2 separate regions of the Homo sapiens genome follow, and region 2 is linked to region 1. The links come from fine-mapping of genetic effects on gene expression. Tissue or cell type: whole blood. Region 1 holds a variant in brackets; the other region holds the start of a gene. All regions are shown on one strand. Distances are from middle to middle.

Region 1 (2,845 bases):
ACCTCCACACCTGAAAGTCAAGCAGCGCCTGTAGGATCAATCTGGTTAATGCTGATACATTCTCGGTTTTTAAATAGTGTGATTTTAGACTTTTAGTTCTATTGGTGAAGGTACAATATATAATAGAAAGAAACTCCAACAATCCCATACTAAACCTTTGCCCTTTGCTCGGGCTCTTAAAGGATTCACGTGCTTCCAGCTCGTAACTAGTGTTGTCCTACTTTTGCTTGTATTGTAATTGATCTCCTTTCTTGGGTTTTTTTTTCTTTTCTTTTCTCACATAAACCTTCTCTACCTTTTGTACTGCTTGTCTCACATACTATTAAGCCTAATTTGAATTTTTTGTTATAGTCTTCAGTTTCCCAACACTGTTTATACTTCTTTAAACAATAGATTTCATCTGCATGGTAGACAGAATGCCCATGAGTCCCAAGATGTCCATGTCCTAATTCCTAGAACTTGTAGATATGTTACCTTATATGGCAAAGGGGACTTTGCAGATGTGATGAGATGGGGGGATTATCCTAAATTATCTAGGTGAGCTTAATAGAATGCATGAGCCCTTAAAAGGGGAGAACCAGGCCTGGTGTGGTGGCTCACACCTGTGCTCCCAGCACTTTGGGAGGCCAAGGCAGGCGGATCACCTGAGGTCAGGAGTTCAAGACCAGCCTGGCCAACATGTCAAAACCCCGAGAGTCCATCTCCAGTGTTTGAGACGGGGTTTCACTCTGTCGCCCAACAGGAGGGCATATATCCTCTATCTCCCATTACCAAAGATTGATTCAGGCATCCCTTCTTGATCTTTCTAGGAGCTGTGAAGTTGCAGAATTTTGGTTTATTGGGATGCATCCTGGTGCTTGCCTACAGATCTTGTTTTGCAAGTAAGAACAGAAGACTCTGGCCGGGCGTGGTAGATTATGTCTGTAATCCCAGCACTTTGGGAGGCCAAGGGGGGGCGGATCACCTGAGGTCAGGAATTCAAGACAAGCCTGGCCAACATGGCGAAACCCCATCTCTACTAAAAATACAAAAATCAGCCAGGTGTGGTAGCACGCACCTGTAATCCCAGCTAGTCTGGAGGCTGAGACAGGAGAATCACTTGAACCCGGGAGGCAGAGGTTGCAGTAAGCCGAGATCGCACCACTGCACTCCAGCCTGGGTGACTCTGTCTCACAGAAAAAAAAAAAAAAAAAAACCACAGGAGACTCTAGGGAGGCCACCAGGCCTGTCAAGGTTGCATGGTTCTCAGGTGGCAGGCTGGTATCACACCCCC[C/T]GCCCTGACTCACAAACTGTTCCTATTTTCATTTCCTTCCCCTTAAAAAAAGTAGAACTATCTCACTGATGTAAGAAGAACATACTTGGCTTTTTTTCTCGTAAGGAGTCTTAAAAAACACACTGATAGTTGACACTGTATATATCAAGGTTTTCTGGCAAAAATTTCCATGGAATGTAGTTCAGAGAGATGCTCCAGAAAAATTTTTAAAAAGCCTCTGTGGTCAAATAAGCTTGGAAAATGCAGTATGTTTGTTCCTGCCTTGGAATGTCATCACATACATAAGCTTAATAAAACTTCTCAGAAGTCTATAGTAAAGAAGTTCTAGTTCAGTTTTCCCTTTTCATATAACACCCATTAGCAGGAGGCAAGAAATGCTAGTACAGAAGTGGCTTCATGTCTTTTCTCTGTCCCTTTCACTTGTTGCGTGGCTGGTTTAGCACTGTAGGTGGCTCTGGCCTGAGTACGCAATGTGACCCTTTGGGAGTCAAGCAGGTGAGTGCATCCCAGAGCCTGCTGATTACCACCCATTCTTCCTTCCTTTCTCATCGACGGGAACCCCATTTTATGTGGGTCAATGAGTGCTGAGGCTCCCTTGAAGCTTGGTGTGGCCATGTGACATAGTTCTAACCCATGAGATGGGAACAGAAGTCTCTAGAGGGACTTTCAGAAAAGCTCATACATGCATTTTTCTTCATCATTCATTTTCCTGCCTAGAGTGCAGAGGCAATACATGGAGATGCAGCAGCCATCTTGTGACCATGAGGACAAAGATCATTTACCAAGGATGACAGAAGAGAAAGTTAGCAAGAGCCTTGACCCCTGATGAGGTGAAGTCATTTCACCAGCCTATCACAGCTTCTAGTCTTCTTGGGAATGTAAGAAAAACAAACTGTTATTTGCTTAAGCTCTTATAGCTAAGTTTCTGTTCCGTGCAGCTATTATTCTAATCAAAATAATGTTTCAGTGTTTATTCCTGAATATCACATAATTTTGCTCTGTAGGTGTCATCTTGGCTTTCTTTATGAATGGCAATTACTGGCTGGGTGCGGTGGCTGAGATGGGTGGATCACTTGAGGTCAGGAGTTCGAGACCAGCCTGGCCAACATGGTAAAACCCTGTCTCTACTAAAAATACAAAAAAATTAGCCAGGTGTGGTGCCACATGCCTGTAATCGCAGCTACTTTGGAGGCTGAGGTAGGAGAATCACTTGAACCCAGGAGGCGGAAGTTGCACTGAGCCAAGATATCACCATTGCACTCCACCCTGGGCAACAAGAGTGAAACTCTGTCTCAAAAAAAAAAAAAAAGAAAAAGAAAAGAGAAAAGAAAAGAAAAGAAAGGCAATTACTGGATAGGGTCTAAGAAGTTTACAAAGCAGGCCAGCAACAGCATCAAGTCATTCAAGTCAGTGTTTCTCAATGTGGCCCCCAGACCAGCAGCCTCAGCACCACCTGGGAACGTATTAGAAGTGCACATCCTCCGACCTCGCCCTAGACCTGCTGAACCTGAGACTCCAGGGGTGGGGCCCAGCAACTGGTGTTTCAGCAAGCCCTCCTGGTGCTCCTTACAT
Region 2 (2,672 bases), 100 kb before region 1:
ATCTCAAAAAAATAGTCTATGCCACCAGCATATGCTTTTCTCATGTCCCTTGATGTCCATAGCAGCATTTACCACTCTGCATTGTAGTTGCTTCCTGACTGTATCATTTTCCAGGCCCAAGAAGTCCTTGAAGGTTTCAAATTTTGAATACCTAACATAGTATCTAGCAAATTGAAGTCATTCAGTGTTTGTGGAGCTCAATGGCAACTGACAATCTCGATTCTTTGTATATGTTTAATTTACTTAATTTGTACATGGTTTGTATACTTGCATTCCTATTGCAATGGCCCACTGCCTGGAACACAGCTGGCACGTGATAAGCATTACATTGTAAATATGTAAAAGAATAAATTTGCCGGCCAGGCTCGGTGACTCACGTCTGTAATCCCAGCACTTTGGCAAGCTGAGGCGAGCGGATTACCTGAGGTCAGGAGTTCGAGACCAGCCTGGCCAACATGGCGAAACCTCATCTCTACTAAAAATACAAAAATTAGTCGGGTGTGGTGGCGCGTGCCTGTAATTCCAGCTACTTGGGAGGCTGAGGCAGGAGAATCGCTTGAACCCGGAAGGTGGAGGTTGCAGTGAGCTGAGATCGCGCCACTGCACTCCAGCCTGGGCAACAGAGCGAGACTCTGTCTCAAAAAAGAAAAAAAAAGAAAAAAAAGAATAAATTTGCCTACATTAAATAGCCGACTGTTAGGTGGATGCACATAGAGGAGTAAGAATACAGCAAGAGGGGCACACGAAGAAAGGCTAAATCTCTGGGGTTTGAATGGGGAAACAGTAGGATACAAAGCTAATGAAGGTCTTTAATTATCCAAATATCAGTGAAAAACAGCAAGGATCTTCCGTTTATGCCCTGAACCCCCTTTGTCTTAAGTGCTTAAATATGCTTAGCTGAAAAGACACTGATTCCATCTTTCCTCATTTAACAATCCTTTAGAATAATTTCTAGAGTAGAAATGGAGTTGATAGTGGCTTCCAAAGAAAAATCAGAATCCCTAAGAAAAATACACGGTAAATCCTTTGCAAGGGAGTTATGGTTACAACAGTTTTGAGTCGTTTTGTTCTTGTTCCTTTATCTTGTTCAACTGCAGACCTTCACTCCGGCGGTCTCCGTGGGCATTTAACCCTTTCAGCTTTAACGATGAAGTGGATCCCCTTCAGCATGACATAACTCATAGAGGAGACCGTAACGAGGGTGGGCTTCTGCCACCCAAATGCGGCCACAGACTCCTGCCACGCCTGGCAGTAAAAAAACCAGAGTTCAGGGCATCGACAACTTCACCGGGGCTATTGCGCAGGCTCTGCGTTCCACGCAGGCTTATTAGGAAGAAAGGGGAAAAAAATTTCCCAGAGACACGTGGAACCGAGGGGCCAACCCCGGCCTAGGCTCTCCACCGCATCGGATTCTGGAATTTACGATCACGAAAGTTCTATTGTCCCGCGATTGGCTCCCGGGCCGCATGACATCATAGCGCTTGATTCATCCTTCGGGTCCCGATTGGCTGGCCGCGCCATTGTGACGTCACGGTCAGCCCACGTTCTGATTGTAGATAGCCGGCGCCTTCCTCTTCCCATCGCGCGGGTCCTAGCCACCGGTGTCTCCTTCTACATCCGCCTCTGCGCCGGCTGCCACCCGCGCTCCCTCCGCCGCCGCCGCCTTGCTGCTGCTCAAAGCTGCTGCCGCCCCTTGGGCTAAAAGGTAAAGCCGTCAGCTCCGGGAAACTTCGTCGGGGGCCGCCGCTCGGCCATGACACCCGCGCGAGCGCGCGGCCGGGAAGCGGTCAGAGAGAACTGCCGTTAGGTCTCGGACCTGGTGCCGAGAAAGAGCTGCCGGGGCAACCCGCGCTCCGCCCGCGGCCTCCAGCTCCGCCGGCTCCGGGGTACAGCCCGGCTCCTCGGGCGCGGGGAAAGGGGTGCGGGTGCGGGCGCGGGCGGCTCGCCCCACGCCGAGGCTGAGGCAGGGCGCTCGGGAGCGTTCTCTGTGCTGCGGTCCCACCTGTGCGCGCTGACAGGCGCCGCGGGGCACGACACCGTGCCCACACCAGACGCGGAGGGATGGATCTGTCCGCCTGGGTCCTCCCGCCCTGCGGGCCGGAGCGCGCGGCGGGAGAGCCGGGGGAGCGCTCTCGGAGGGAGCGCGCTTTCTTTGGAGTCGGCGAAACCCGGGTGAGTTCGAAGAGCCTGTGCGAGGGTCTGCGGGCACCGGGCGCCGCTGGGGGGACTCTCCGGCCTTTCCTTTTTGTCCTGTTCTCTCCGCTTCCGTTAACCCTGCGGACCTTCCGTCCGCCCCTCGGAGGGAAGCCTGCTAGCTCGGGACCGCTTCAGTTTTTATTGAAACCAGACAACGGCAGCCCTTGGTACTCAGGGAGGGATGAGGCTGGTGGGAAAGCGAGAGGGCGGGGACTCGGGGGCGACCGGGGCGGCCCTTTCTGGGAGCCTGATCCCTGGAGAGGCGGGAGCGGTTGGCTGCGAGGGAGGCGCGCGGCGGGGGGGCGGTTGTGCTCTGCGCCGGGGGAGCTAGAGTGTGTGTTGTCTTGCGAGTTGTAAGGAAAAGTGCCTTTTTACTGTTTCCACGCCGGTAAGACTCTCCCACCCCACCACCTCGGGTCGACGGAGCAATGCCTAGAGCAAGAGTTGTTCTTGCTGAACTGCGTCTTGCAACCGTT

The links. PIP is the estimated chance that this variant, and not a neighbour inherited with it, causes the effect.
Region 2: ELOVL5 starts here. The variant in region 1 is fine-mapped to the expression of ELOVL5 in whole blood (TOPMed, PIP 0.91).

What each region holds. Positions count from the first base shown.
Region 1 is chr6:53,243,577-53,246,421 of GRCh38, reverse strand. LOC124901332 (a long non-coding RNA gene) reads left to right here. Exons shown (of 4, transcript XR_007059612.1): 2 at 810-881; 3 at 1,991-2,151; 4 at 2,278-2,377. Among named protein-coding and RNA genes, the nearest start is that of MIR5685, 32 kb to the left of the region's middle. The variant C/T (reference allele first, on the strand shown) is at 1,274.
Region 2 is chr6:53,347,850-53,350,521 of GRCh38, reverse strand. It overlaps ELOVL5 (ELOVL fatty acid elongase 5), which reads left to right and starts at 1,572. Exons shown (of 8, transcript NM_021814.5): 1 at 1,572-1,705. RefSeq lists a silencer at 1,732-2,171.